Regions from separate parts of the Homo sapiens genome. Here all the other regions are linked to region 4. Evidence: fine-mapped expression QTL. A gene starts in region 4. Each other region holds a variant in brackets. All regions are shown on one strand. Distances are between the middles of the regions.

Region 1 (8,243 bases), 48 kb after region 4:
TAAGGGTGCAAAGGCATAAGAATGACGCATTGGACTTTGGTGACTCAGGAGAAAGGCTGGGGAATGGCAAGGGATAAAGGATGACACATTAGGTACAGTGTACACTGCTCAGGTGATGGGCACAGCAAACTCTCAGAAATCACCACTGAACAACTTACTCATGTAACCAAACACCACCTGTTCCCCAAAACCTATAGAAATTAAAAAAAAATTAAAAAGAAAAGAAATTTCCTGTCCTAACAATCAATGAATTATTTTATCATATATTGCCAATAGGAGCTAAACAACGAGTTTGGGCCAGATTGATCTGTATTTTCTAATATACTTTATTTTTTAGAGATGTTTTATATTCACACCAAAATTCAACAAAAGGTACAAAAATTTCCTATATATCCCCTTTTGCAACATGTGCATAGCCTTCTCCATTATCAACATGCTCCATGAGAGAGGTACTTTGTTACAACTGATGACCCCAGCGTTGACACATTATTATCACCCATGATCCATAGCTTACATTAGGGTTCACGCTTGCTGTTGTACATTCTGTGAGTTTGGGAAAATGTGTCATGACATTTATTCCTATCTTTAAAAATAGGAGTACCAACCGGAACTTGAATTTGGCCCTTGTATCTTTACAGTGCTGGTTTTATTTTACTCTCATAGTCATCTTTTGATGCTGTAACAGAACCACCTGACTACCCATACTATTTGTAGGTTGTCTCCAAGATTGCCAATATGGGTCACCCAGAATTAGCACAATGGGAAAGGCAGGTTGGCTAGGCCACCTTAATAACCACAAAGACAAATTGTCTTAAATTAGAGGAAAAAAGGTAGTGTCTACCAAGACATCTACCGTAAAATCTATCTGAAAATTAGAATTGGTTTAAGGTGAAGTAAGTCAGAAGAGTTAATGTCCATTTCTTGTTCATGTACGTGTGTATGTTTGAGTCTTTATGTAGTACCACTCTGAGTGTTTATGTAGTTATGTGGTACTACATAAATACTCAAACATATACACATACATGAACCACCATGTAATACCACCGTATTGTCTGTATCTCCGGGGATATAGGCTTTGCTAACTTGTTTTATGATCCACTGTTGATACATTTGTAAATCTAAATGCTAACTCATTTATTCTGTTTACCTTTCCGAGGCAGGCAGGTTCAATTGACTTAACAGCAGGCTAGCAACTCAGAGACTGTGAAATCTAATCACATTTTGACCCATTCTTAAATTGCTTCATCTGTGAAAAAATGTTTGATGAATGCAGTACTCTCTTGTGAGGGTTTGTATGAAGAATAAATATTAGAAATGATTGTGGGGCACTTTGAAAATAAAAATTGTTATGAAATGATAATTATATTCAAAACACCCTTTGACATCAACTTACAGAGGAAAAAGTGTAATTTTTCCCATTGTAGACCTTTTTAAGGAATTCCATATTTGGTTTATCCCTAGAATTTTCTATACTTGTGTATACCATACTTCTCCTAACCCATTAATGGAGTTGTTAAACATCATATAATATTGAAAGATATTTCTATTAGATGAGCTTTCAATTATTAATGGTAATGGAAAAACATTAATGCAGCTCTTACAACATGACAGACTGTCAGAAAGATCTCAGGAATAGTGAAGGGCCAGAGATCCTAGAGTCCCTGATCTGTATAAATTTGCTGCAGTATCTTTATAAAGTGGATAATAATTGTGTTAGAGATCATTTGATCAGGGAGAACCCAGCTCAACTGTGCAATTCAGAAGAGCTGGGAGTTAGGAGGAGGTTATCCTCAATATATTAAGGCATTCCAGTTCACTTCTGGATGTCCCACTTGGTAAAAGAAAGTACATTTTTCATTGCATAGTAGCAGCATCCACAGCAGCAGAAGTAGCAGTAGAAATAGCAGTAGCAGTGATAGTAGCAGTGGAAGTGGTAGTAGTAGCAGCAGCAGCAGCTGGGATAATAGGAATAGTAACAATGGCATCAGGAGCATTAGCTAACATTTTATTAACTGTTACTATGTGGCAGGCACTGTTCTAACCTCTTTACACGTTTCCATTCATTTAATTTTCATAACGCTCTTTGTAACACGGGTAATTCCCATCTTAGGGAATACTGTCTATGAGAATATTATTCATCAAAAATGAGCAAAGGGACAAAGGGAGAATAGATATGCAGTGCTCAAAGTTTAGAGATGCTGTGTAGTCATTTGAAGAGAGCTGAACAGGACTTCTTCCAGCCTAAAAGACAACAGAAATCCTCAGGTGACTAGGCACCTGCTGCCATAGATAGCTTCTGATGTTGGAGAGAACACAGAGAAAGCTCTACAGTCCTCTGTGTTTAGGATCCCATAACCTAGAAAAGAAGTATAACCTAAAATTAAGGAGGAGAATATTTTTATTCTAAAGATGAAAAGTATAAGAAATGATTTAATCACATATAAAAAATTTATGTTGTAAACAGGAGCAAAGGCGAAAAAAATCTCATACTGATAAGGGCATTTTTATGAACTGAAACAGGTTGCTGAAGGAGGAAATAGAATCTTTTCCCCTAGAGGCATTTAATGTCAGGACTAATAGCATCAGGATAAAATGCTATAAGTAAAACCCTGAGAAAGAAGGGATAAACCTCTAGAGTCATTTTCAGGTCTATGGTTTTATAAAGTAATTCTTAAATGTTTAATATATTAGAATGGGAGGAATAGATCTATGTGTCCAAATAATTAGGACATTGGTTTCCTTCAGGATTCTGTCTTAATAACCTTGAAGACTGTGGTGAAACAAAGAACATCAAGGTCAAAAAGAATTAGAAACAAATGTGCTTTATTCTCATTGTGAACTGATATGATAGATAATACTTGAGCTATATAATTATAATTAATTTGAAATGCAGTACTTGAAATTTAAGCAGATGTATTCCTCTCACTGTAACACTGTTAGAGGTAAAATAAAGGAGAATAATTTTATACTCAAATCTAGTAAAATTAGCGATCCATATGGACTTCATTTTATGCAAATTATTAATCTTGTATTTGCACTTTTGCGTTTGGGAAGTAGAAGAATTGTAATTCAGAATCGGAATGTTGAAAGTGTCATATTGTTTCTTTTACACGTGAGATGATTTACAGTTTTAAGTGTTATGCTCTTCAGAAGAAAAACAACTTACATTGAGCCCCAGAAGTCAACATGAGGAGAAAGCAAATGACGTTTTGTTTAACTTAAGAAAAAGTTTTCCTAGCCACCTAATTTTGGAAAATACTTGGAATATGTGTGAATAAAAATACAAAATACATAATGTTCATCCAAAGGGCTTAACATTTTATATTAGATACAAAATAAGAACTGATGGGTGTGTTAATAGGAATATTAAATAGAATTTCTCTCAAGGAAAGATTTTAAAGGAAATGATCATAAACATTGTGCCGATAAATCACTCATCATATAATAAACAAAACATGATTAAATATTTATCTAAATTTAACAGTTTTAGATGCTTAAGTTTTGCTTGGGTTCTATTAATTTGTGCATGTAGTTAAGAAATATATCTTGCCATTCAGGTAGACCCAGTTCTAAACAAAAGTTCTACCACCAACTAGCATAGTGACACGTGACCTTGTACAGGTTAGTAACATCTCTAAGTTCTCCATTTCTTCGACTGTAAAATGTGAATAATGATATTATTTATCTCAGTGCCCTTGTGAGGATTAAATTAATTAGTGAATTAAGTGCTTCATACAGTGACTGATGTTTGATAGGTGTCAGTGGAGATAACATTTTGTAATTATTATATATGATTTAAAATGCATGTGATAACACCATATAGTTTAGGTTATATGTGTATATTTGTACAGTATTTCTTCTGATGTTAAATTTCTGTATACATTTTCTTGTAAATAAGAATAGAAAATAGTGTCTCCATCTTCTCTCTACACATTTGCACATCTTTCCAATCTTACAGACCTGGGTGATTGTGCTGTAGGCTAGAATATGCGCAGACTCTAGTCAAACATACTTGATATCTACTTCCTCCTCTGGTGCATAGTAGATGGATGTGGGATAAGTCACCTAGCCCATTTCTGAACTTCAGTTGTAATCTGTAAAATGAGATCATTGATAGCTAACTAATAGGTTGCTTGGAAGTACAGATGTAACAATGTCAAGAATCTCCATAGTTGACATAGAACAGACTTAATACTGAATAAGTAAAGTGTCCACAGCTGCTGTTATTGCAATGTGTGTTTGTCCATTAGAGGCCTCCTTTTAATTACACTTTCTTTCAATTAAATAATGCAAAATAAGGTAATTAGAAAATAGTATGTTTAATGTTTTTGACTAAAGTTTTGCACTCACTAAATGGAAGAATAAATAATTAGTTAGGCCTAATATGGTCATGTGCCATGATGTTATTTATCAAACATTATTTAGTTCCATTTAGCAAATTTAATGCCTACTATATGCAAAACATCATGTTCAATGCTGGCAAAGGGGGATGATGAATGTTAATAAATTAGATATAGTTCTGCTACTTAGTGACTTAAAATCCAGTGATTGACAGAAACACAGAGGTTAATTTACGGTTGTCAGTAAAAGTATATGAAGAAATGCATAAATGGTCGAGTGCAGTGGCTCATACCTGTATTCCCAGCACTTTGGGAGGCTGAGGCTGGCGGATATCCTGAGCCCAGGAGTTTGCCACCAGTCTGGGCAAAACCGATGGAATGATGAAATTCCATCTTA[CA/C]AAAAAAAAAAAAAATGCAGAAATTAGCCAGGTGTGGTGCTGCGCACCTATGGTCCTAGGAACTCAGGAGGCTGAGGTGGGAGGATTGTATGAGCCCAGAAGATGGAGGTTCAGTGAGCCAAGATCATGCCACTGCACTTCAGCCTGGGTAACAGAGCAAGACCCTGCCTCAAAAACAAACAAACAAAAATAAAGTACTGTGAGATAGAATAGGAAACTGTGAGATAGAATAGGAATACAGGATTGTCTGAATGGAGTGAATTGGAACGCCTCCTTATGCAAGTGACCTAGAAAGGAAGAGGAGGCTGCTATGAAGTTTAAACGCTCTCTAGAAAACAGCATGAACAAAGAAAGACTTGGATTTGAGAAAGCTCAGAGCATGTTCAGGGTACTGAAATGTAGGGTGCTGGTGTGCTTATATGTATGTGCAGTTATGTTTATTTGTGAAAAATGAGCTAAGGGTCAGAATATAGGGGGACATAAATTTTAAAAGCATAACTTATAATTATATTGAAGAAGGACTTGAATTCTAGGCCAAGGTGTGTGATCTTATTTTGTATATATTGGGAATACATCAAAGGCTTTTGACCAAGGAAATGAAAAAACCCAATTTTTATTTGAGAAAGATAACCCTGATGCCATTGTTTAAGATATGTCTGCAGAGAGTGAGTTTAAAGCTGGGAGAGCATTTAGGAAGCTAATGTGAAGATAAGGGGAAAAAGCAGATATCGTCTGACCTAGAGCCTCAGCTGTGAAAATAGAGCTGACTCAAGAGATCTATGTCAGCCTGGATAGTTTGGCCTCCTCTGTTAAACAGTGTTTCGAATGACTTGTAAGTCTAGCAGCCTGAACATGCAGCGTAGTCCTTTTTAGAGCACATGTTGGAAGAGTTGATAGATGTCCATTTTCCCGTGCTTATTTACTGAAAGACTCCAGGAAAGGTACCTCAATTTGCTTTCTCTGTAAACATAATTACTTGCTTTCATCCCTTTGGTCTCAGAGAGTTTTAAGGATTAATTAGTTGAGACGAAGTGCCTCAAAAAGAACAAGTATGGAACATATGGTTTTCCTGATACAAATAAATCTTATAGATGCGTCCATGCTGTCTTTGGAAGCCCAGCAAATAAAAGACATGCAAAAATTGTGTAAAGTAGAAGATAAGCTGAGATCAACAAATAATAAATCCCCAGCATTAGCTTTTGCATAGGAAATAAACATTTCTGTCCACTGACAACAGCTTTCTTTTAAAGGAAAACAACCTGATGATCAGCCCCAAGGCCACATTAATATCAGCCAAAGAAACATTTATTGGTTCTCTTCTGGAAACCATAACAATGAGCATGTTGCATCAAATTGGTCACACATAAATTAGTTTTTTTGAATCGATAACCTTTTATTTATTTCTGTTAAAGTGATATATTTTTCCTAAAATATTTGTTTTCTTTCTGTGCCCTCTTTCTTTTCAAGTTACCTCCACAGATTTATGTCAAAATATTATGTTCATTATACTTTTGCTAGTGGCTTGCTTTGATGCAACCATAAATGAATATCATTACACTTTACAAAGATAATTTATTTTCTAGGCTTTGCTGTCATGCTATATGTAGCTTGTATAGTTAAAACATATAGAAACTAAAATATTTTGGGGCCTAAAGAAAGTTTATTATTTTGTTTTTGGCTTTTCAAATTGACATTCTCCATTGTATCTCTATAATTTAAGGCAACCAGGTATGACATGCGCAATTTATTTGCTAAGACAAACCAGATATGCTGGATAAAGCTCTTTGGGGCAGTCTTGCAACTCTCTCCTTGTCCCCAAATTCAGCCCATTTTTATTAGCTTCTATCTGGCTCCTGATTCTTTGCTGCATCTGTCATTCTCAACTTGACTTTGTTCTTTCTCTTAAGGATAAGGATAAGTCTTAAGGATAAGACTCTCCTTATCACTGTTTACATTGAAGGATACTTAGTCATTAGGATGTCTCTGTAAGACTTTATACCCTTAAGGGAAGACTTTAATGTGCCTGAAGCTGTGTTTTTCCAAATGTAACATTTAATATCTCCTTAACACTCTTTTAATACACCCTATATAGTTGGCATTGCTACATTCCAGCTATGTGATATTGGTCAATTTACTAAACTTTTCAGTTCTTAATTTTTCTACTTATAAAATTGTGATAATAAGAATAATTGCTTCAGAGCATTGTTGTGAGAAAATTATATATAAAATCACACCATAAATAATACATATAATATACTTAGCTCAGTTTATGGATCACAGTAATAGTTCAGCAATTGCATATTATTATTATTGATAATAGTAACCGTTATTATGCAATTGCTCCGTATTGCTCCTCATCCTGTGTTCCCATTCTTGATAAATGTTACCACCATTCGACCAATTTTTAGACCAATGTCCTGAATTATCATTGACACATCTTCACTCATCTTATTTCTATGCATTGCCGTATTCTTAAGTTCAAGCCACCATCATTTCTTCCTTGAATTACTGATAACTTCTTCCTTGAATTACTGATAAATGTTAATAAATTAGATATAATTCATTTTCATAATTCCTTGAATTACTGCAATAGCTAACTCATCTCCCTACATTTCCCTTGCATACTGTGCAATTCATACTCATAATAGAGCTGGAGAGAATTTTGGAATATTTAAGTCTGATCATGTTACCTCTTACTTAAAATGTCTCAGTAGCCTCTCATAACTTCTAATATGAAGTCTAAAATCCTTGATATGAGCTATAATAAAAGCCCAGCATGACATGTCCTTTGCCTAATTCCCCTGTGCCATTCATCTCCTCTTTATCACCTTTGTACTCAAGCTTTGGCTTTTCTGAACTTTCCTTATTTTCAAAAATGTCTCCCAGCCCCACTTCCACCCGAGACATTCACACACCCCATTTCCTCTTCCAGGAAGGCTCTTATGTCGCCTGGGTAAACTTACTCTTCAAGTCTAGTGACTTTTTTCCAGAAGCTTTCCTGATATCTTTCCATTTCACCCCACTGCTGACTTATTAAAATTTCTAGAATTTTATACTTTTACACTACATTCTCTGTGTTGTATTCTCTTATTCAGGGTCTGCTATTTAATTTTTAAGTTCCTTGAAAATAGAGACAATTTCATTGTTTTCATCAGTTTGGTCCAAGTATATATAACATAGATGAAAAATAGATATTTTGTATTATATATATTATATAAATAATTGTTGAATGAGATGAATAAACTATAGTGAGAAGATGCTAGGCTTTGTTAACCATTCAAACCTAAGCTCAAATCCCAGCGCGGCCACTTGCTACCTCTGGTACTTTGAACAAATTCTTTAGCCTTGTTTCTTTGATTTTGTTTTGTTTCAGTCAGGAAATTGTAAGATAATTATAGTCTCCTCATTATTCTTGTAAGAGTAAAATAAGGAAACATGGGTAAAGCACTTAACATAGAATATATTTTCTATAAATTTTACTTCCTCTTTTTTTTCATTTATAAAG
Region 2 (8,243 bases), 230 kb before region 4:
GTCTGTTCAAATTCACCCTCCCTCTGTCTCTGTACAGGGGAGCTATTTTCTTCTTCCTTCCTTCTTTCTTGCTTATTAAACTCTCCACTCCTTAAAACCAAAAATAAATACATAAATAAATAAAAATAATAAATAAAGCAGAGGTAAATGGGCTGTGTATGAGTGCTCAAGGTAGTACCTTTATAGAACTAGAAAAAAAAGGAAAAAGAAATCATCCATATTTCAAAGGTAAAGAGGCTGAAATATTTAAGTTCTACTTTTCACAAGATGATAAAGTGTCTTTGGTTGTGCAGGCTGTTGCTTTCAAATCCAAACACGGAGAGAGTACAGGATGGTACATTTGAAGACTGGAGGAGTGTTAGGTGATCTTTTGCCTCCTCTGGATTTGCACTAACCCCAAATTGGATATCCAAAGATTCTGTCACATTAGTTTAAATCTTTGCTTAATTTTACTTTGCTAAGGGGCTATAGGCAGCTGTTTCCCCAGGTAAATCAGTGATGAAGTAAACAGAAAAGTCAAGCGTACTGATTCTCTGCTGATTTGAAGACAAACTCCAAATTATAAAAATTGTTATGAGCCATGATGGAAATCATATTACTTTTACATTTGGTCATATAAGAAGCTGTTTTTATTTCCTAAACCAAAGGCACTGGTGGAAACTACCTGATCCATGAATTTAATATATATTTTTTATTCAGCAATTAAGCACTGAGTTACTACAATGTACTTGGTACTCTTATAAGTTCTGGGGATACAGCAATGAACAAGAAAGTGGTTAGGGCTGTGTTTTCGTGTGTATAGAGGTGATAGAACTTGGATGGTAAATAAATAGACGAGCAGATAGGAAAAGGTACTAAATTGTGAAAAGTACTGAGGAAAGAATGAACCACTGCCTAAGATTTGATTGACAGATAAATTTTAGTTGATATTTAAGTTGAGACCAAGTGGCAAAATAAATCAATGAAAGATTAAGGGGAGCAGTTGGCACATGGGCTTCTGTGTGCTAATGAGGGAGGAATGCCCAGTGTGCCTTTATGGAAGTGGGTGAAAGGAAGAGTGCTAAAGGAAATGCCATGGGTTAACCAGGGAGTAAATCATGTAAGACTTTACAGTCAAGGTAAGGAATCTGGATTCATTCTAAGTGTGATGGGAAGTCACGGAGGGTTTTAAGTAAGGGCGTAACATGGTTTGATTTATAATTTTAAAATACTGTCTTGGCTACTGTACCAATTGTTAGCTAAAGTACAACCAAAAAAATAAGAAAAAATGAGTGGCTATTTCTCTGAAGTGTTCATTCTCTTTTGTTTAGTCTGAAATATATGAGTGCCAATTCTGAGACAAGCACTACTAGTTACAATGTGAGCTAACTCAAACAGTGGTCTTTACTCGCATAGAACTTACTGTCTGAGAAGGGAAATAGACATTAATTTAATAATCATGCCAATAAAATAATAATGAAAAGTCCTCAAAGGAAGAAAACAAGGTTATATCTGACCGTATAATAATGGATCCAAATCTGACTGGGAAGTCACTGAAGGCTTTAAATGGGCTGCAATAAAAAGAATGAATACCAGTCAACTGATTATATTACCTTAAGTGCAATGAAGGTTTTAAACAGGGATGGAGGGGTGAGGGAGTAACATGATTCAATGTGAGTTTTTAAATTTATTTTTTAATTGGCAAAAAAAAATTGTATATGATGTTTGTGGTGTACACCATGACTTTTGAAAAATGTATATGTTGTGGAATGACTAAATCGAGCTAATTAACATATGCATTACCTCACATATTTATCATTTTTTGTGGTGAGAACACGTAAAATCTACTCTCTTAGCAATTTTCAAATATGCAATATATTGTTATTAACTGTAGTCATCATATTGTCCAGTGGATCTCTTGAACTTATTCCTCCTGACTGAACAACGTAAGATTTAAAGTGATCACTCATTCTGGCTTCAGTTGAAGAATGGATAGGAGCAAGAGCAGAATGAAAGTAGAGGAACTTGTTAGGAGGTCCACTAATAGTAGGTAAGGACCGAGTGAAGGTAACAATAAAAAGAAAAACTGATTCCATGGATATTGAGATGATAAAGGTAATTAATTGGCCTTGGTGATGGATTAGATAGGCAGAGTTAGGGATACAGTAGGAGAGTACCTGAGCAAATGAATAAATGAAGATTTTGTTTACTATGAGACGGAATAATGAAAGAGGACAAGGATAGAAGAGGAAGACCACAAATATGGTCATGTATGTCATGAATTAATGATATCTTGAAAATATGCAAGTGATAGGTCAAATCAGTAGTTGGATCAACTAGCCCAGAGAAGAGCTCTGGGCTAGAGAAATAAATCTGAACACCACCACAGTAATTAGAACTGTGGATGTGTTTAAGTCTCTCAGTGAGAGACTATAACAGAAAAAGTTATTTTAAGGCTTCAAAAATCTACAGGATTTGGTGACCCAGTAGAAAAGGAACTGCTTGCAAGAGAAACCAAAACGGCATGGTCAGAGAGGTGGCATTTCAAGAATGCCAAATAATATCAAATAATTATCAGGAACTACAAAGATTCTGTGAGTTTTCACCATCTGCAAGCTAATAAGTTAGTCTGTTACTATTTTAGCAAAGCTGTCAGAAAACACATGACTCTTGGTTCAGAGACAAAGGACTGCATTATTCATAGCACAAACAGTAGTTCAGAGGGCAACATGATGCTTGCATGGGTTCCCCCATCCTCCAGGTCCATGGAATAACACAAAGTGCCCATAATGGATGCCTGCACATGCAGTGGGTTGCATTACTGGAGGGAAACTTAGGAAGTTTGGAAGATTCACCACTTATATGGTAAAGTGGAAACAAGTATGTGGTTTTTCTTTTGGAAAATGCTACCTTATTTCTCAGGGTTGCTTGCTGGAAATACAACCCAGAGAAATGGCCCAAGTAAAGTATAGCAAGGGCTTTGCTTTCACAGCATGCCCAGGAAGAACATACAGGGATGCTTAAGGCCCCTTGTAGATTGCTTCTTTGAACAATGATCCTGAAGAGATAAGCAAATTGAGGACAGGAAAAATCTTGAATTTAGCAAAATGGAGATCATTGTTAACCTTATTAAGAGCTGTTTTGTCAGAGTGATGTAATGTAAAAACATACTACAGTGGGCTGAAAAGTGAATGTGAGGCCAGGCGCAGTGGCTCACGCCTATAATCCCAGCACTTTGGGAGGCTGAAGCAGGTGGATCACAAGGTCAGGAGTTCAAGACCATCCTGGCCAACATGGTGAAACCCTGTCTCTACTAAAAATACAAAATTAGTTGGGTGTGGTGGCGTGTGCCTGTAATCCCAGCTACTTAGGAGGCTGAGGCAGGAGAACGGTTTGAACCCGAGAGGTGGAGGTTGCAGTGAGCTGAGATTGTGCCACGTGCACTCCAGCCTGGGCAATAAGAGCAAAACTCCATCTCAAACAAACAAACAAAAAAAAGTTTTTGCCAAAAAAAAAAAAAAAGAAAAGAAAAGAAAAAAGAAAAGTGAATGTGGGATATGAGAGAGAATAGAGACCACAAACATAGAATAGTTGCTTTTTTTTTTTTTTTTTTTAAGAAGTGCAATTGTAAGGTGATAAAAATAGAAATATCTTTAGGTGGGATATTGAAATGAGAGAAGATATTTTTGTTAGTCATTGGGTTATGTTTAAAAACTAATGGAAATGATCAAATGAAATGGTCTACAAACATCAGAATATAAATGGCTATTATATGTTCATTAACCCTGGATATGACATTGTTATAGATTGAATTGTGTTCTCTCAAAAGACAAAAAAAAGGATGTTTAAGCCCTAATCCCCAAAGTGCTACAAATGTGACCTTATTTGGAAGTAGGATCTTTGAAGATGATCAAGTTATAATGAAGTCATTACAGTTGGCCCTTATCTAATGTGACTATATCCTTATGAAAGGGGAATTTTGGACACAAAGACAGACATACAGAGAGGATGCTGTGAAGACACTGGAAGCCAAGGAACCCCTGAGGCTACCAGAAGCTTGGAGAGAGTGATGAAACTCACAGCCCTCTGAAGGAACCAACGCGGTTGACATCTTGATTTCAGACTTCTAGCTTCCAGAACTGTGCAAGAATACATTTTTGTAGTTTAAGCCACCCTGTTTGTGACACTTCGTTACAGCAACCCTAAGAAGCTTATACTACAGACATTGTTCTCAGAAAGACCAAATACTGATAACAAGAAATAAAAAAGCAAGCCTTAAAATCTTTAGAGCAGCCTTTATTTCACTGCACTTCCGCAGGACATTGATCACAGCAAATTTTTTTTTTTTAACAGGGTCTGACTCTGTTGCCCGGGCTGGAGTGCAGTGGCATGATCTTGGCTCACTGCAACCTCTGCCTCCCAGGTTCAAGCGATTCTCCTGCCTCAGCCTCCCAAGTAGCTGAGATTACAGACGTGCACCATCATGCCCGGCTAATTTTTTGAATTTTTAGTATAGACGGGGTTTCACCATGTTGGCCGGGCTGGTTTTGAACTCCTGACCTCAAGTGATCTGTCCGCCTTGGCCTCATAAAGTGCTAGGATTACAGGCGTGAGCCACCACGCCCGGCTGCAAATGTCTTTTTTCAGGAGTGTATAATGTTGAGAGCACTACTTAAATGTTCATTCTTAGAAAAACCTCAAAAAGGGAAGTAAAAGAAGAGGGAATAAAAACTCTTTAAGAAAATATTCTCTTAGCAAAATGAGAATTCAATATGTTAGCCTAATTAATAGATATTCCATTATCAAACACTTTGCATTTGTTAATAAAATACTTCAAAAGAAAATGGGAAATACAATTTCTTTTAAGTATATAAGAAAATGATTAGAATGGTAGAGTGGCTTTGTGAAATGGTCTAAGCTGATTTGTAGAGCAGGAAGCTTAAGCAATGGTTCCTCCAGACTTTAAAAAAAATTACCTAACCACTATGGTTTTACATCTTCTCATCTGCACATAAAGAGTTCTATTA[G/C]ATTACTTCCCCCAGAATGACTATGGGAATTATTTTAACAACATATGTTTCTAGTATAAGTGTCTGTTCTTGTGTAAATTGAATGTAACACCTAACTGAGGCATTCTTGATGTTGAAATTATTTCTGTTTACTTACCAGTAATGTTTGTTCTTATAGTTATATATAATTCGTATTCTTTTAACACAGATTCCAAGCTTTTTCATACTTTTTTAAATTCCAGTTTCCCTGAGAATGTATTTTGGGGTCTACCTTGGATGCCCTCTTTAATTCTTTCAGAGGTAATGTTCATGCATTCACATGGGTCCTGCTTATAGCTCATTAAAGGAAGCACACATCTGCACCTACTGCCTAACAAAGACTCTCCAGTGGGCCAACTAGAGTCAATCTTCCAGAAGTTTAATGTAGATCAGGTTCTACAATCTCTGGCTCCAAAACATTTTCTCTATTTTATAGTAATATTGATAACTATTATTGTTATTACTTTGAGGAAGTGAAAATATCTCATACTTCTGCTGGCTAAAGAGTCTTTGAAATATTTCCGCAATGCCTACAGGGTTAGATATTAATAAGCTTCTACTTGTAACAAAATTGAGACACAAGTTAAAGACTCTGACCACGTGATCAGAGAAATATTCCAGCAACATCAAAGGTAAACAGGACTCTCACAGATAAGCCAAAAGGACACATAATTATTTGAGCAAATGGAGAAGAACAATTTGTTCAAGTTGTTGAAGTCATTTCAGATTATTGCCAAGAATTCTCAGAATATCCTCTGAATGTATACTTCTGTGCTGAAAACAAAACCACATGCTCATAGGAAATGTCACAATTAAGAATCTTGTTTACCTAGCTGTTTAAAAAAACATGCCAGGGTAGGCAATGAAGGTTACATCCTCACTGTGCAGGTCAGTGCTTATCAAATCAAAATGGTTCAACCACCTAAAAAAAAAAATCTTCATACAAAGGACGAAATAGCAGGCATACCAGCCTAGCTTTGCACGCTGGCTATGTGCACACTGTACCTCCAAAAACAGCCTCTGGTCATAATAGTTCTGGAAATATGTTGTGGCTTTTTTCAAGATAAATAAAACATGAAAAGTGAATTTGTTTATAAAAATAAACCCATCTTAACTTTTCATTTATACTAGCATGCTTTTATATGATGGCTTGCCCTTCAAAAAATTGGAGCTTACCTTGAAGATCTCTGCAATATCAAGGTCTTAAGTTCCTAAGAGTAAGTTTTATCTTTGTTATTATTATCATTTAAAAGCTATTCAGTGTATTAGCAACTAGAGATGTAATTATCTTACATCTCTAGTTGCATACACAAACTTTCAGTATAAGTTTATAGTCTCTATTAAATTGTTTTAATTATATGCATTTGAGTATAAATAAAAACATAGAAACTTATCTAAATATTTTTCCCCCTGTATCAGCAGCTAGGCTTTGAGGTCAGGGAGAGAAAGGAGTGATATTCTATATGAAAAATAATCAAGATACTTTGAAAAAAAACTTTTCTCAGTTCAGTACCCTAGAGATTACATTTAATGTTCTTTCTTAAATTTAACTCTCTATGAAATTGAGAGATTAAAGTACTATGTCTAGTATCAGTTATTTTCTAATAGCCCAGCACATTCTCAAGAGAAAAACATACTATTAAAATTATAAAGGATATTTATAATGTTTATTTTAAAATGGTTAATGCTCCTTTTAAATGCATGATTTTTAATACTTAATTGTGTTTATTTTTACTATAAATATACTCTATTAGTTTGTTCTCACACTGCTAAAAAAGACATACCTGAGACAGAGTAATTTATATAGGAAAGAGGTTTAATTGACTGACAGTTCAGCATGGCTGAGGAGGCCTCAGTAAACTTACAATCATGGTGGAAAGGGAAGCAAACATATCCTTCTTCACATGGCAGCAGCAAGGAGAAGTGCCAAGCAAAAGAGGGGAAAGCTCATCAGATCTTATAAAACATCATATCTCACAAGAACTCACTATCATGAGAACACCATGAGGGTAACTGCTCCCATGATTCAATTACCTCCCACCAGGTTTCTCCCACGACACATGGGGATTATGGGAACAATTCAAGGTAAGATTTGGGTGGGGACACAGCCGAACCATATCATATACTCTAAGTATATTAAAATAATATTTACAATATAATTCTATTATGAATTTTTGGAATATAGCTGAGGACTATATTATATCTCCTTTGATATAATGAAGGTAATATATTGTCCTGGTTATATTTTTCAGGATTGTGATCTATCTCTCACATTTTTTTATTGATTAAAAAATTAAAGACAGGAGGAAGGAGCCGTTAAAATCCAATATATATTTTCCTAACCTTCACATATGAAAAGGAATCAGAGATGACAACCCTCATATGGCATCAAGAATATTCAGCAATTATTTGAAAATGAAAAACTCTAATTTAGGAAAATAAAATGGCTGGAACAGAGTTGAATGCTGTCTAAATAATAGTGAAATTGAAACTGGAAAAGATAGAAAAATATAATAGCAGACAGCAGAGTAGAGAAACATTGGGCCCATATCCAAAGCATGGGAAATGTCACCTACTAAGACAGTCAGATTATATATCAGAAAATGTGCAAAGCTTTGGGTATTTCAGATAAATGTCTCGGGATTAGGCTTCCATGACAAGTTACAGTGCAATGAACCTGAGAGTGTGGATAAGAAAATTGCCATTTTTCCTTTTTACAAAAATACGGACTTGTCATCGATTTTAAGTTTTTGCCACTGGGATTTTTAAAACATAATAAATGCCACTGGGATTTTTAAAACATAATAAATGCCACTGGGATTTTTAAAACAAAGCTTAGTAACTAACTATACAGGGATTAAAATTAATAGGATTACATAGTTTTTTAACAAATAAGAATTGTGGGTTACAGCTGTATAGTACCCCTTCAACATAGTTGTATTGGTAGAAGCCATATACATTCCAGCCATTGTGCTAGGGCTCAAAATACTCTGAAAATATCTTCTAAGTTTGTAACCTTTTTTTTTGAATACCTTGAGTGGTGACAAACTTCCTTTTGAAGGTGTGTTTGATCTTTTAAAACAACTATATAAATACACTTAATAGTTTAAAACAAGTATATACAAAATAACTTTTTTAATATTGAGTCCTCACCATTACTTCTTCATTCCCTTTCTTATCTTTACCTTCCTTCATTCAAATAGTGAACTAAATATTCTC
Region 3 (8,243 bases), 35 kb before region 4:
ATTATTAAGTTTGGTGAGGAAGGCATGACAAAAGCTAAGATGGGCAGAAAGCCAGGCCTCCTGCAACAAACAGCCAAGTTATGAATGCAAAGAAAAAGTTCTTGAAGAACATTAAAAGTGCTGCTTCAATGTACACACAAATGATAAGAAAGCCAAACAGCCTTATTACTGATATGAAGAACATCTTAGTGGTTTGGATAGAAGATCAAATCAGCCACATTATTTCCATAAGCCAAACCCTAATTCAGAGCAAGGCCCTAATTCTCCTTAATTCTGTGAAGGCTAAAAGAGGTGAGGAATCTGCAGAAGAAGTTTGAAGCTAACAGAGGTTAGTTCATGAGATTAAAGGAAAGAGACTGTCTCCAGAACACAAAAGTGCAAGGCGAAGCAGCAAGTGCTAATATAGAAGCTGCAGCAAGTTATCCAGATCTAGTTAAAATAATTGATAAAGGTGACTACACTAAACAATAGATTTTAAGTGTAGATGAAACAGTCTTCTATTGGAACAAGATGCCATCTAGGACTTTCAGGGCTAAAGAGGAGAAGTCAATGCCCAGCTTCAAAGATTCAAAGGACAAGCTGACTCTCTTGCCAGGGGCTAATGCAACCAGTTATCTTAAGGTGAAGTCAGTTTTCATTTATCATTCTGAAAATCCTAGGGGCCTTAAGAATTATGCTAAATCCACCCTGCCTGTACTCTATAAATTAAGACCTGGATTACAACAAAACTTTTTACAGCATGGTATACAGAATATTTTAAGCCCATTGTTGAGACCTGCTGCTTGGAAAACAAAATTTTCTTTCAAAATATTACTCCCCATTGACAATGCACCTAGTAATGCAAGAACTCTGATGCAGATATATAAGGAGATGAATGTTGTTTTCATGCCTGCCGACACCACATACATTCTGCAGCCCATGGACCAAGAAGTAATTTCAACTTTCAAGTTTTATTATTTAAGAAGTATAGTTCATATAAATGCCATGGATAGTGATTCCTCTAATGGATTTTGGCAAAGTAAATTGAAAACCTTCTAGAGATAATTCACTATTTTAGACACTATTAAGAACATTGGTGATTCATGGGAGTAAATCAAAACATCAACATTAACAGGAGTTTGGAAGAAGTTCATTCCAGCCTTTATGGAAGACCTGACTGGTTCAAGACTGCAGTGGAAGAAGGACCTGCAGATGTGGTAGAAATAGCATGAGCTAGAATTAGAAGTGGAGCCTGAAGATGTGACTGAATTGCTGCAATCTCATGATAAAATGTGAACAGAAGAGGAGTTGCTTTTTACAGATGAGCCAAAAAAGTGGTTTCTAGAGATGGAATCTATTCCTGATGAAGATCCTGTGAACATTGTTGAAATTATAACAAAGCCTTTAGAATATTACATGAACTTAGTTGACAAAGCAGCAGCAGAGTTTGTGAGGTTTCACTCCAATTTTGAAAAAAATTTCTATTGTGAGTAAAAGGCTACCAACACCATCATATTCTAAGGATAATCTTTCATGAAAGAGTCAGTCAATGTGGCAAACTTCACTGGTGTCCTATTTTAAGAAATTGCCACACCCATCCCAACCTTCAGCAAAGCAACCACTTCCCTGATCTGTCAGGAATCACTAACATCTAGGCAAGACCCTTCACCAGCAAAAAAAATGACACTAGCTGAAGGCTCAGATGACTGTTAGCATTTTTCAGCAATAAAGTACTTTTAAATTAGGGTCTGTACATTGTTTTCAGACATGCTATTGCACCCTTAATAGACTACAGTACAGTATAACCATAACTTTATATGCACTGGGAAACAAAAAAAAAATTGTGTGACTCACTTCACTTTATTGCAATATTTGCTGTATTGCAGTGGTCTGGAACAAAATCTGCAATATCTCCAAGGTATACTTGTAATAACTTAAGACACAAATTTCACAATTGCAGCTCATGTTTACAATTTGACTGTAACAAATGTTGTAGAAATACACAAATACTTAAATAGGCAGTAATTTTACACATTTATCCTATTTTCCCAAAATATGCACACTGATTTAGGATGCACACATTTTCCTGTGATTTCTGGCTCACCCTGTAGTCAAAGCACAGCGGAGAATAATGGCTTCAGCCATTCCCAGAGGGAAAGCAAGAAAGGTCCAAATGGTCACTCAGACAAACTGACTTGGAAAATGAGACCTTTGGGCACCACATGTGCAACACCACCAGAAGCAAAATGAATCACTGTAATAGAGTCAGCCACCTCAGTTTACATGGTAAACGATGTGTTCAGGCTTGTTTTCAGATAACTTTTGGCATTCAGTTCTTTGAAATCCCCAGGAGAGCTCAGGAGGGCACATGTATTTAATCATTGAGTATTTATTGCAAAGCTGCACAGTGAAGTGGACAAGAATAAGAAGTGAGTGTAGCCACATATAATCTTTGGCTATGGCACTTACTATGTACCCATTGGCAACTTTTTATACTTCTTCGAACTTCTGTTTCTTTAAGTGCAAATTGAAAAAAATAATTTAATGAGGATTTTGATGATTAAATAAGAAAACACATGTAACATACAACCACTAGTAAAGTTTCAATAAGCACTAGCAATTATAATGCTTACAATTGTAATGCCATTAAAGATATATACATTAGTATAAGACAAGAACAAATATTTTAAGTTGCTTGGGAGCAACTAAACTTGAAATCTTAAACTTAAACTTAAGATTTTATGTTTAGTTGCTCCCAAGCAACTTAAATTATTGGGAGCACTAGACTTAAAGTCTTAAAATATTCATCCACTCATTCATTGCATTGATGTTTTTCTTACACTCTCCTCATCAAAGATTATATTAAATGCTGATGTAGCTGGGCGTGGTGGCTGATGCCTGTAATCACAGCACTTTGGGAGGCCAAGGCAGGTGAATCACTTGAGGTTAGGAATTCAAAACCAGCCTGGCCAACATGGTGAAACCCCATCACTACTGAAAATACAAAAATTAGCCAGGCATGGTAGCACATGCCTGTAAATCCCAGCTACTCAGGAGGCTGAGGCACAAGAATCACTTGAACCTAGGAGGCGGAGTTTGCAGTGAGCTGAGATAGTGCCACTGCACTCCAGCCTGGGCAGCAGAGTGAGACTCCATCTAAAAAAAAAAAAAAAAAGGAAAAAAAAAATTGGCCGAGCCCAGTGGCTCACGTCTGTAATTCCAGCACTTTGGGAGGCCGAGGCGGGTGGATCACGAGGTCAGGAGATCGAGACCAGCCTGGCTAACATGGTGAAACCCCGTCTCTACTAAAAATACAAAAAGTTAGCCGGGTGTGGTGGTGTGCACCTGTAATCCCAGCTACCCAGGAGACTGAGGCAGGAGAATCGCGTGAAATCAGGAGGC[G/A]GAGGTTTCAGTGAGCCGAGATCATGCCATTGCACTCCAGCCCAGGTGACAGTGTAAGACTACATCTCAAAAAAAAAAACCTTGTAATAATACAAGGTGAAACACCTCAGTATAATATACTAGAAAATCATACTTTTAAAGTCAAAACTTGAATCTTAGATGTATTGCGTATTGATTTGGGACAACTGTTTAAACATTCTAAGCTTTAGTTTCTTAGATTTTAGAACAGAGATACTAATGGGAATATTTTGAGTTTTTCATGTATTTATTTAGCATATGGTAAATGTTAAATCAGTATTTTAGAATAGATAATATATGGAATAGGAGAGAGATATTAAATGTGTAGCACAAATTGTCAGAATTAAGAGAAACAGGAGACATGATGGCTAGAATTATTAAAGAAAAAATTTTAAAAATAAAATTAAAATATAATTTTATTATTGAACTTTAAAACAAGAAGAGAATTTGACTCAAGCAAATGCATGGCCAAACTATAGAAAGAAATCTCAATCAGATGGCACACCATCTTAAATGCCCCATTGAAGAGTTTGAATTCAAAGAGAAATTATTGGAATATGTAATAATTGGGAATAACATGATTAATTCAGTGTTTTACATATTAGGCGTTACATAAATTTTTCATGTGAAGGATTTTATAATATATATAAGGTGGATGGAAAAAGGAAGAAACTAATGACAGGAAGAATGATTAGGAAACCATAACCGTTGGTACTATCATAAGATGATAAGAGTCAGACAAAGTTGAAAGCAGTGAGATCTGAGATACATTTCAAAGGATCAATCCAATGGTCTTGTTTGATTGCTTGCTTGCTTGTTTTGCAAAAGAACTTATACTGATGCTACCAGTTTTGTTCTTTTTGCTCAAGATTGCTTTCGCTATTCAGAGTCCTTGGTGCTTCCATAGGAATTTTAGGATTGGTTTTTCTATTTCTATGAAAAAATTTCATTACTATTATAGAGATTGCATTGAAGCTGTAGATTTTTTGGGGGTAGTATGAACATTTTAACAATATAAATTCTTCTAATCCATGAACATGGGATATCTTTTCATTTTTTGTGTCTGTTTTAATTTCTTTCATCAATGTTTTATAATTTTAATTGTAAATATTTTTCACTTCCTTAATTCAGTTTATTCCTATGTGCTCTTTGTAGCTACTGGCAAAAGGAACGCTTTCTTGATTTCTTTTTCAGATAGTTCTCTGTTGGTGTATAGAAATGCTACTGATTTTTGTACATTGATTTTGTATCTTGCAACTTTATAATATTTGTTATTCAATTTTTTTCTTCATTATTGGTCTGCTCAAATTTTCTATTTCTTTATGGCTCAATCTTGTAAGTTGTATGTGTCCACCATGAATTTACCTATTTCTTCTAAGTTTTCCAATTTGTTGGTATATCATATTCATAATAGTCTCAAATGGGCTGGTGCAGTGGCTCATGCCTGTAATCCCAGCACTTTGGGAGGCCAAAGTGGGTGGATTACCTGAAGTCAGGAGTTGGAGACCAGCCTGGCCAACCTGGTGAAACCCCATGTCTACCAAAAACACAAAAATTAGCCAGGCATGGTGGCATATGCCTGTAATCCCAGCTACTCAGGAGGCTGAGGCAGGAGAATTGCTTGAGCCTGAAAAGCGGGGGTTGCAGTGAGCCGAGATCATGCAACTGTGCTCCAACCTGGCTGAAAGAGCAAGACTGTCTCAAAAAAAAAAAAAAAAAAAAAACCAGTCTCAAATGATCCTTTGTATTTCTGTAGTGTTAGTTGTAATGATCCTTTTTGTCTCTGCTTTTATTTATTTGAGTCTTATATCTTTTTTCCATAGGTTAACTAAAGATTTCTCAGTATAATCTTTTCAAGGAATGATCTTTTATAATTTTTTAATAATTTTTTTAGTTTTCTATTTTATTTATGTTCGAATCTTTATTATTTCTTTCCTTCTACTTATTTTGCATTTGATTTGTTTTTCTTTTTTTTTTTAGTTTATGAGTTGTATTGTTAAGTAGATTATTTGAGATCTTTCCATTTTTTCCATGTAGGAATTAATTGCTATAAACTGCATTCTTAGAACAGCCTTTGCTATCTCTTACAGGTTTTGATATGTTGTATTCGTTATCACTTATCTCAAGAATTTAAAAATTTTCCTCCTTAATTTATTCACTGATCCATCAGTTCTTCAGAAGAATGTTGTTTAATTTCAATGTATTTGAAAGGTTTCTTAAATTCTTGTCATAATTTCTTGTTTTATTGCATTGTGGTTGAAGAACACTTGATATGATTTTAATTTTAAAAAATTTTCTGAGACTTGTTTTGTGACCTACCATGTAATCTATCATGAAGAATGTCCCATGGGCCATTGAGAAGAATGTGTGTATTCTAGAGCTTTGGAAAGAATGTTCTGAAGATGTCTGTACATGGTTTTAAAATATGCTACAAGACATAGCAACAAAAACAGGACAGTAGTAGCATAAAAACAAAAACAAAAACAAAACAGATACATAGTCAAATGAAACAGAACATAAACCCCAGAAATTAACCCATGCATCTGCAGCCAACTTGTTTTTGACAAACGTGCCAAGAACATACACTGAACAAAGGACACCCTTCTCAATAAATGGTACTGAGAAAACTATATATCCACATACAGAAGAATAAAACTAGACCCTTATTCCTTAATACATACAAAAATTAACTCAAGATGGATTAAAAACTTAAATGTAAGACCCAAAACTATGAAACTACCAGAAGAAAATATAGAGAAAGAGCTTGGTTTAGGCAAGGATTTTTTTGGATAAAACCTTAAACACATGGGCAATATAATCAAATATAGTTAAATGGGATTACATCAAGCCAACAAGCTTCTGCACAGCAAAGGAGAAAATCAACAGAGCAAAGAGATAACCTATGTAATGGGAGAATATATGTGTAAATTATAAATCTGATAAGGGGCTAGTATCCAAAGTATATAAAGGGCTCAAACAACTCAACAAAAGCACAAGTAACCTGCTTTTTCAATAGGTAAGAGACCTGAAGATACATTTCTCAAAAGAGGACATGCAAATGTCCAATAAATATGTGCAAGAATGTTCAGCATCTCTAATCATCACAGAAATGCAAATCAAAATTACAGTGAGGTATCACCTCCCTTGAGTGAGAATGGCTACTATCAAAGAAATCAGAAGATAAATGTTGTTGAGGATTTGGAAAAAAAGGAAACTCTTTTACACTGCTTCAGGGAATGTAAATTAGTACAACCATGATAGAAAACAGTATGAAAGTTTCTCAGAAAACTAAAATTAGAGCTACCACATGATCCAGTTAATTCATTACAGGATATTTAATAAAAGGAAATGAACCAGTATGTCAAAGAAATACCTGCTCTCCTATGTTTATTTCCGTACTATTCACAATAGCCACAATATGGAATCAACCCAAATGTCCATCAACAGACAAATTGATAAAGAAAATGTGGTATATCTATACAAGGGAATATTATTCAGCCATTAAAAAGAGTGAAATCCTGTAATTTGCTGCAACATGGATGAAACTTGAGGATATTATGTTAAGTGAAATAGTGCAGACACAGAAAGACAAATACTGCATGATCTCATTCAATCTGAAAAATAGCTCTTATGAAAGCAGAAAGTTGAGTAGTAGTAGAGTAGAGGATGGAGAGGGTAGGTGGTGAGAGATTGATCAACAGATTTAAAGCTGCAATTAGGAAGAATAAATTCTTGTGGTCTATTGCATAGGAGGATGACTGGAGATAATAATGATGCATTGTGTGTTTTAAAATAGCTAGAAGAGAGGTTTTTTAATGCTCTTATCACAAAGAAATGATGTCTAAGGTGATGGATTATGCTAATTGTCCTGAACTGATCATTACACAATTTATACATGTATCAAAACATCACATTGTACCCCATAAACATGCACAATTATTAAGTGTCAACTATGAATATAAATAAATAGGATGTATATTGAAACAGAATAGAAGAATTTTCAAGAGCTGAGAATCTGATTGTAGGCAGATGACAATGACAAAAATGAAGAGTATCATAGTGACAATTATGTTGATAATGTTAGTTTTAATCTAGCTTATTCTGATGCAATGCTATAAGACATCAAGTGGAACTGGCCAATAGGATAAAAATGTAGGGTTAGTATGAATTTGGAGTACTACTTAAACATGTATGAGCTACAGTTATCCATCAAGGACATTTGTTTAAAGAAAGATTACCACTAAAAACTAAGCTAACAGCAAACTTTAGGTTCACAGGGAGATTGGAACAGAGGGAGCTAGGAAAGAAAAAATAAAAAAGAAAGGAGGGAAGGGAAAGGAAGGGGAAAGGCAAAGGGAAATAAAAGGGGAAAGGAAGGGAGGGAGGGAGGTACAGAGGAAAGAAGGGAGTGAGGGAAGGAGGGGCTTTTTCAAAAATGGACAAAAAGAAGAAAGATGTCTACAACTTGGGTCTTTGTTAATACCCCTGGCTAGAAAACAAGGAATCAATGGTAAGGGACTGTGAAAGGGCCACTGGATTTGTTCTAACAAAGCTGTAGAAATAGAGCAAGAAAAGATCAGTGATATTGAAGTTAAAGAAGCAGTTTCCATATGAATACAGAGGAAATGTTTTGTGATTTGGCAAGAAGGAAACCACAACACAGTTTCAGTACACTGGCAAAGACTGAAGTCAGATTTAAGAAAGTTAAGATAGGAACAGGTAATAAGGAGTATGTTTCTGAGAGAAGTGATCTTCATAGAGCTTTCTAGAAAATCTTCCATGAAAGCTTAGAATTTAAATTTGGCACAACACTCAGACTATTCCTTATGCATGGATAATTCACA
Region 4 (8,243 bases):
CATTAAAATTCTAAAGTTCTTTCTTATAATATATGATCAGTGATCCTTGACTCCATGTTATTAATACTTCTTTTTTTGTTAATCAATAATAGAGTTTTTGCTCCTTAGGGAGCAAAAACATACATTTGTCCAACCATCGTTTGTTAATACTTTCCTGTGAACTTAACTATCTTACTTAAGAGGAAAATAGTATGGAAAATTGGGGCCTAGTAATTAATTAATTAATTAGACTTTCTAGAAATCCATTAGATCCAAAGTGACTTTTTTGCTTTAGAAAATCAAATATATATTATTTTCATATTTTTACAGTCATTATATATTCACCTCATATTCCTGAATAGAACTATTGCAGATCATAATGGGTAATAAATATATATCAAAGAAATTAGAGATAACTCTGGGAAACTTCTTGAAAATATATAATTCAAGTTGGAATTTCTTTAAAGGCATCAAACACTTAAATAGCCATACCTTGAGTCATTTTCTACTTACTCAAAACTAAAAGACCTGCTTATTTCAGTTGAAAGTGGGAAAACTTTGAAGAGAAATCCTCAAGTTAAGGGGTAAACCCAGACTCTTACACTTTTTGTATGTAAATTTATACACTTACTGAAATCACCCACAAATTATGAGTTTTTAATACACTGAGAGTTTTTGAAATTCATTTAATATAGTGTAAGTTTCATAGTCAAATAGCGTAGCTAAATTCTTTCTTCATTCCTCATGTCTGAGACAGGAAGGAAAATGACTAAGTGGATTTCTAGTTCAACTGAAATAGCTATGTATTTCTTTTTGTACCCAGACTGAACATTCTGTGAAATAAGAACATAATGTTTATCATAGACTTTGAAAGTTTTTACTCTCCTGAGCTTCAGTGATATGTCTTTATTAGCTGGCATTATTGAAAAGGTGAGTTGCAGAATTGTATTAATTCATTGACAGATGATACTGTTAACAACTGAAATTAAACAATAAAATTCAATGGACTTGGGAAGAGATATACCCAGAGGTCCTCCATGTGTATTTAATACAATAACTTTGGAAATCATTTACTTAAAAACAACTTGGAGTCTAGAATAAAACAGAATTTTATATTATACAGATGTAATCTCTGTGCCTCTTTAAGATTGTGTTTCTTCCTAGACTTAATATAAATCCCACTTAGGCCCTTATTTCAATCTTTGTCATCAGTATATTAGCCTAAGCCCTAGCTTGATCACCTAGAACCTTTACTAATCAGGTTTCTGTGCTCAGCATGGGCCACTTTGTTTTATTCTAATTGATGGCATATAATTTTAGTACAGCCTTTCTTCTGTAGATTGTTTCCTCACTTTATACTTCATAGTTATCACCTTGTTGACTAGGACTTGACTCATTCTTTTTGCCTTTCCTAAACCTTAGTCTGCCTAGACCAATCATTGAAGACCCAATGGAAACCCCTTTCATCTTCTCATATCATGAACCCTTGTAAGATGGTTTGAAGGCTTATATTCCATTAGGTATTTTTCTCACCACTTATCATCCATTCACAAAAATTTATCAAGTGTCCAATCTATTTTTAAGTATGGCTGAACATGCATTCACCGTAGGTGACGCTTGAAGGAGAGAAGAGTGAATCAGATTTGTTGCATGCTCTGGAACTGCATACAATTTTGTTCAAGGAGTAGGAAGGCAAACAAAACACAATGGTATACAGTGGTAGGAACAAATGTTCTCAGCTTCCAAAACTATCTTTGTTGAAATTTCATCTCCAGTGGAAATTTTGGCGGTGCTAATCAGGGGAGAAAAACTACTTCCATTCTTCAAAGGCACACACAATTGACTCGGCTATGTTGTCACATACTGATGGGATTAATATTTTAGTACAGGGAAGGGGTCCTGGCCTGAGCCTTGGGAATCCTGAGTCCTTATCTCAACAGACCGTAAGTAGGAAACTTGCCTCCGGTACCATGTCACTGCTTTTGAGCATATCATCCTGATTGATGATGAATTCCTTTATACTTAAAATACAAAGCTCTTCTCATGTCCCAGGTAACGTGAAATTTTTTCCCCCTGGATAAATGTTATTCATTTTTCCCTTTCAGCAAGATGTACCCTTATGATTCTCTGATGCATGACTAAACTATACAATAAATATTATTGGAATACTATGTATTCTCAATTGTAACAAAAGTGACTGTGATCTACATGTAGCTGGAAACACTCTTCCTCTCAAGAATTAGGTAAGATGGATCCAATCCCACATTGACTAGATTTTGAAAGATTAATTCGATTACATTACTTTGTGGAGCTTACATTTTTATGTTTATTTCTAACTCTGAGCTCTTGCTTATGCTACATTATTTCAGTTTAGAAGTGGTCTTGTCATCTCATATGCACTGTATCTGGCCTACGCAGATAGGGTGCGCTGCTTTATTAATAAATTTCCTTAATGAAAATGTGTGTGAAAGGATGAGAGAACTTATGTTTAAATCAATCGCCCCACCAAAAAAACCATACATTTATTGCTACGCATTCTTGATAAGCAAAGTGGATAGTGATGAGCAAAGTAGATAGGAATTCAGTTCAAGAATCAGAATGCCTGGGTAGAACCCTGGCTTTACCATTGCTATGAATCATTGTGTGACCTTGGAAAAGTTGCTTCGAGTCTCTGGGTTTCAGTTTCTTCATGAGTAAAATGAGGATGAAAATAGCAACTCCTTCAATAAATTTTTATGAGGGGAATACATCTATTAATTCATATAAATTGCTTAGAATATTCTAACATGTAAGTGTTGCTAATTAATAGATCTAAAGACCTTTGAACATTTCTAAACTCATGCTTTGTATTGTTGCCTTCGTCCCCACTCCCAGGCCAAATTTCTATTTTCATGGTTATTATTTTGTTTAATATAGAGCCGTTTCACCATTTTTTTTTAATGACCAATAGCCTTTGGAGTTACTAGTCCAAGTGGCTTATCAAGGCATTTTCCTAAACTAGGACACATTCCTTTCTAAAAACAATTCTGGAAGCAGTGGACTACACATTCAAATATATATTATACATATGCCCATATATATATGCATGTGTTTGTGTATAAGTATAATATGTACATATTTGTATAGTCAGTTGCTCCCAGAATTCCACGTGTGTGTTTGTGTGTTTGATCTCATTTGATCTTCACAGCAATCCCATGAGGCTAGCACTATTATCACTTTTTACAAGAAAGGAGACTGAAGCTTAAAGAGGTTAAGTGAGTTGACCAAGATCATACAGTTAGTGTCAGAGCCCAAATCAGTCTTCCTTTTGCAAATCTACCTTTAAGCAATTATGCTGTATTAACTCCCATCGTAAAATAGAGGAGATCAGATAGAGCGTTCGCGGACCTAGGTTAAATATATTGTCAGGTCGATTTATTCTAATACACCCCACTTACAACCACAGTGAAAAAGAAAACAATTCCCTAAAGCAATTCTACAGGAGTCCATGGAAATGCTAGCATTTCAGCCAAGCTTAGCTCAAGGAATATAGAGTTAAAAGGCATTTGCCTCCTAGCGATAGCCTTCCTGTTGATTCATAAGATGCAAATGAAATGTTAATGTTTAAACCAAGTGGGAGAAACTACTTATTTTGAGAGGAAAAAAATATGGTATAAAAGCTCTACTCTAGAATATTGTTAATGTAAGGAGAACTGGAAGAACAGGACAAGCAGGCTTTTGAGAAAAATCACAGCTGAAGATAGGGCTTAATAGTTTAGAGCACTAAAAGATAAACAATTTTAAAAATCAGTGTGTGAGTGTGTGTGTGTGTGTGTGTGTCTGTGTGTTGCGAGTCTCCAATCTCGCTGGTAACTCGCAGTTTTCTGATGAAAGTGCAGTATGTAACGATTACTAGTTGGCATCCTCTGCTGGAGACCAGTCTCACAAAAGGGTGACCCTGTGATGCACGAAAGGCTATTTAATGCCCCAGCGAAGTGCTTCAGGGACCAAGATTTTATTATTCTTTGGTGATGAGAGTTGTGATCCTGCATCCCTGATTTAGAGCCACTTAGGGCTCCGACAGCTCCACCCCGGTGTTCTAGAGGAAAATCTTCCTTCATGCTCTCTGCCTGATTTGAAAGCAACACAGCTTCCCGATGTTCCTCCTGGGAGGTGGTTCAATCTTTAGAAATTGCCTAAGAAGCCTGTCCATCTGCTGGAGTGCCTGGCTTTCGGGAACGGACCAAGACGGACTTGGCTTTTAATCTGAAATAATTTGAGGATTTTCTGTCTATAACTTAAAATCACCGCTTAACTCAAAGTAAAAAAGTGACACGCTCTCTAGAGGGCTTTTGTAGACATTGGGAAAATCCGTATGACGAAGTACGGTTTAGAAATTCCGGATTTAATTTCCCCCGGGAAAAGCAAATATCTTCTGTTGGTACCGGGCAGTCGACTCACGTAGTCTTCCTTTAAAACCAAGTCTATGCCAGCCGGGTGTGAGGGGAGTGGTGGGGGTGAGCAGGGGGAGGAGAGAGATTCGAAAAGTACAGGAGGAATCAGTCCAGTACAGGGGTTGCCCCTGCCAACAAGTAGCTATTCCTGTTAACTCCCAAGAAGCAAGTTTCCACCTTTGCCACTTCCTCCTGCCCTTTCCTTTCCTTTTCCCTTCACTCCCGCTCTTGGACCCAAGGTTCGCTCCCCACCGCCACCGCCCTGCCCCACTATTCTCTTTACAGGACAGAAGGCTGCAGCAGCACGGCGGAGAAAAATCTCTGAGGAATGAGTCAGTGGGATGGGCGTATGGGTGGAGGGAGAGGGCAGTCGATTTTTAAACCTCAGCGAGGGTGGGTGGGCAGTTGGAAGCCAGAGGCCTTATCACTGGGGCGCTGCAACATCACAGAAAGTGTTAGTCCCAGGGCTCTCCCTGGCGCGCGCGGCTCCTGTGCTTGCTTCTTATTGGCGGACCTGGCCCTGGGGGCGGAGCCGCGGTGAAGCACCGCTCATCCGGGCTCCAGGACCGGGGCACGCGGTTCTCCCTGATCCCGGAGCTGGGCTCAGGGCTCGGACTCAGTCCTGCAGCGCCTCTAGGCTGCGGATCCGCGCTTCAACCACCTGCTTTGCGCTGCGTCCGGGGAAGTGGGGAGGAGACGGGAGGGAGGGAGGAGGCGGGGAGAGGAGGAAAGAGGCAGCTTACACACGCCTTCCAGTCCCTCTACTCAGAGCAGCCCGGAGACCGCTGCCGCCGCTGCCGCTGCTACCACCGCTGCCACCTGAGGAGACCCGCCGCCCCCCCGTCGCCGCCTCCTGCGAGTCCTTCTTAGCACCTGGCGTTTCATGCACATTGCCACTGCCATTATTATTATCATTCCAATACAAGGAAAATAAAAGAAGATACCAGCGAAAAGAACCGCTTACACCTTTCCGAATTACTCAAGTGTCTCCTGGAAACAGAGGGTCGTTGTCCCCGGAGGAGCAGCCGAAGGGCCCGTGGGCTGGTGTTGACCGGGAGGGAGGAGGAGTTGGGGGCATTGCGTGGTGGAAAGTTGCGTGCGGCAGAGAACCGAAGGTGCAGCGCCACAGCCCAGGGGACGGTGTGTCTGGGAGAAGACGCTGCCCCTGCGTCGGGACCCGCCAGCGCGCGGGCACCGCGGGGCCCGGGACGACGCCCCCTCCTGCGGCGTGGACTCCGTCAGTGGCCCACCAAGAAGGAGGAGGAATATGGAATCCAAGGGGGCCAGTTCCTGCCGTCTGCTCTTCTGCCTCTTGATCTCCGCCACCGTCTTCAGGCCAGGTGAGCAAGGGCCTGGGAGCAGCCCCAGACAGACGTGGGCCTGGAGCAGTTTCCTAGGTCCCCGTCCCAGCCTCGCACCCCCGAGGCAGTGCGCCCAGGCGCGTGGTGGAGGTAAGGGGACCGCTGTCCTGGCACAGAGCTGTCCCCGGGCTCGGTCACCTGTGCCGCACGTTTGGGCTTGGCTGGTTAGCTCAAGTTTGGGCATCAAGCTGGGGAAACTGGGTGAATCTCCAGGAACTTGGTGCTCCGGGGTGGGCAGGATTCGCCTGACGCTCTCCCCTTGTCCCTGCGGCTCCCAGCTAGGCGGCGGACTCTTGCCCTCTGACAGTTCCTCCTGTCTCTGGGTATCCAAGTCCACGTCACTGCGCCCCGAGCAGTTTTTCTTTCGCTTAGTTCTCGGATGAAATAACTGCCGGCACTTTTTCGTGATAAATCCCCTAGTAACTTCCCCTTGGTGAGCCGAGGAAGGGATGGGAGGGGTAGAGAAGGAGAGGACTTTAATCACCTCCCCCCGCCCCCCTTGCGAAACCTGCTAAAGCTTAAAATCGTGGTTTCAACGTTACCCCCTGCGGTCCCCGTCCATTGTCTGGGCGGGTGGTGAGTGAAAGGGTGACCGCAGGCAGATAACACAGCCAGAACAGGAATTAGTAGGTAGGCCTGGGAGACACCTCAGTGAGAGGTTTGTGAATTTCCAGGACCTGCTCATAGAGCCTCAGTTCTCAGTTCTGTACTGAGTCTTGGAAGAGAGAGAGAGAGAGAGAGAGAGAGAGAGAGAGAGAGAGAAAAGGCAAAATTCCCAACAACTAAAATATCTCTCGGGAAATCCCTTTCCACACCCTCGGGGACGTCCCCTGGCCCTGGTATCCTCAGGCCCGCCTGGCGGCTGACACAAGTTGTTCTAACAGGGTATTCCGTGCGCTCACAGTTGCCTGACAGAGCAGCAGGTTCCTTTGCTCCCCTAAACTGAAAATTTAGGGGATTTTTTTTTCTTTGAAGTTTTTTTTTTCTATCCCTGCGTAGACAGTTGCCAGTTAAACTCCTACTTCCTGGTATTTTGGCCTGTTTGTTCTTAGCTTTTTCTTTAGCTTTTATCAAAGAAAAATCTCACTTCCTTTTATCCGTGCACATCCCTTCAGCTGTCGGCAAGCTCAGGTCACAGAAGAGGTTTGAAAGCCTCTGAATCTCTCCCAGGAACTGGCGGGGAGAGGGGTTTGGGGGCCAGAGCCTGAGGAAGAGATTACAAGTGTTTGCGAGCTGCTGCTGCTGCTGCCGTTGCTGTGTGTGTGGGCGGGAGGAGTGCCCTCTCCAGATCTCTTTATTAAAGTTACATTTCTGGGTGAGGTAATGAGCTCACCTGATGTTTCTGAGGCTGAGGGAAAAAAAAGGCGTCTGCGTTCTCTGACAAATCTCGGGCTCTGGGGCGGGGACTGTGAAACCATAGTTCAACCGGATTTAAAGCAGGTGTCCTAGTGTAACAACGCTGGGGAGGTAGGTGGAAAGGCGAGACCCCCTTGGGCCTGGCACAGTGTGGATTTCACTTTTTCGAGATTCCACTGTCCGATGGAGGAAAGGACACTTTGGAGCCAGGGAATGAGCCAAGAAGGGAGGACAAGGGTGATGTCGGTTTGTAACATGCAAACGTCCACACGCCCACAGTTGGTTTTCCGATTAACCCCCTCGAGACTTGGAGAATGTAATCTCACCCTCGTCCACACCCCTGACACAGGCACATAACCAGTTTCCTTTTCGGTGCCGTCACAGGCGGGCCACGTCGCAGGATAGGTTTTTCTACACATTTAACTGCTAAAAGGGGGAAAGTTCCGCTTTCAGACCTCCTTCACGGTGGTTCTTTTGGCGCCACAGGCTCGTGTGTCCAGGGGGCACCGAGCTGCGCGCTTTCGGCGAGCGGCTAGCCCCGGCTCACCGCAACCAGCCACCGTGAATCTGAGGATCCGATATCGGCCCTGGACCCTCAGATCCGTGGTTTCGGTGAATTACCGAGCTGGCATTGCCGAAATTCTCATTGCAGTATCAGTGTGTTTTGAAAGGAAAGGTTACAGCACTAAAGGCGCCGTGTCTACACTGAGGAAGCAAGTCTTGGACAGTAAGTGCGCCTTCTTCGGAGCCCTCTGCATAGCAGAGCCCGGTGGGGGCGCGGTGCCAAAGGCCGGCTTCATTTGAGCGGGGTAACTGCCTTCCCTGCCGGCCACTCTTCATTTCCGGAGCAGTTTTAATAGTGTATGTCCAGTTGTAGAGGTCAAAAACTCGAGTTTGTGAAACTGCTTCCCCGGGTCTTTCGGCTTGTAGTCGCTACAAAGTCATTGATATATTTTAGGCGTGCCACGTTACCTGTTTTGAAAGGAGGAGAAAAATATATGAACCACGAAAACTGAATTCAGAGATGAAGGCAATGAAGTGTGTGTTCAACATCCGAGATAGCAATATTCTCGTTATTCTTGTAGAAAGAGCGTCAGCCTGTGGTGACATTTTG

Direction of the effects. Alleles are on the strand shown, and positions count from the first base shown. SD is a standard deviation of normalised expression in the study named. Not every link is listed here.
With allele CA in place of C in region 1, the expression in Th1/17 cells of the gene that starts at base 5,180 in region 4 is higher (large effect, 1.0 SD a copy in Schmiedel 2018).

The links.
Region 1: its variant is fine-mapped to the expression of ALCAM in Th1/17 cells (Schmiedel 2018, PIP 0.95).
Region 2: its variant is fine-mapped to the expression of ALCAM in whole blood (TOPMed, PIP above 0.99).
Region 3: its variant is fine-mapped to the expression of ALCAM in whole blood (TOPMed, PIP above 0.99).

Annotation. Positions count from the first base shown.
Region 1 is chr3:105,409,506-105,417,748 of GRCh38, forward strand. The region is part of intron 1 of ALCAM (activated leukocyte cell adhesion molecule); the gene reads left to right. Among named protein-coding and RNA genes, the nearest start is that of ALCAM, 47 kb to the left of the region's middle. The variant CA/C (reference allele first, on the strand shown) is at 4,738.
Region 2 is chr3:105,135,427-105,143,669 of GRCh38, forward strand. No RefSeq gene overlaps it. Among named protein-coding and RNA genes, the nearest start is that of ALCAM, 230 kb to the right of the region's middle. The variant G/C (reference allele first, on the strand shown) is at 5,007.
Region 3 is chr3:105,326,282-105,334,524 of GRCh38, forward strand. No RefSeq gene overlaps it. Among named protein-coding and RNA genes, the nearest start is that of ALCAM, 37 kb to the right of the region's middle. The variant G/A (reference allele first, on the strand shown) is at 3,382.
Region 4 is chr3:105,361,730-105,369,972 of GRCh38, forward strand. ALCAM (activated leukocyte cell adhesion molecule) reads left to right here and starts at 5,180. Exons shown (of 16, transcript NM_001627.4): 1 at 5,180-5,752. The coding sequence starts at 5,680. RefSeq lists silencers at 5,125-5,224, 5,555-5,674 and enhancers at 6,705-6,864, 7,201-7,701, 7,702-8,202.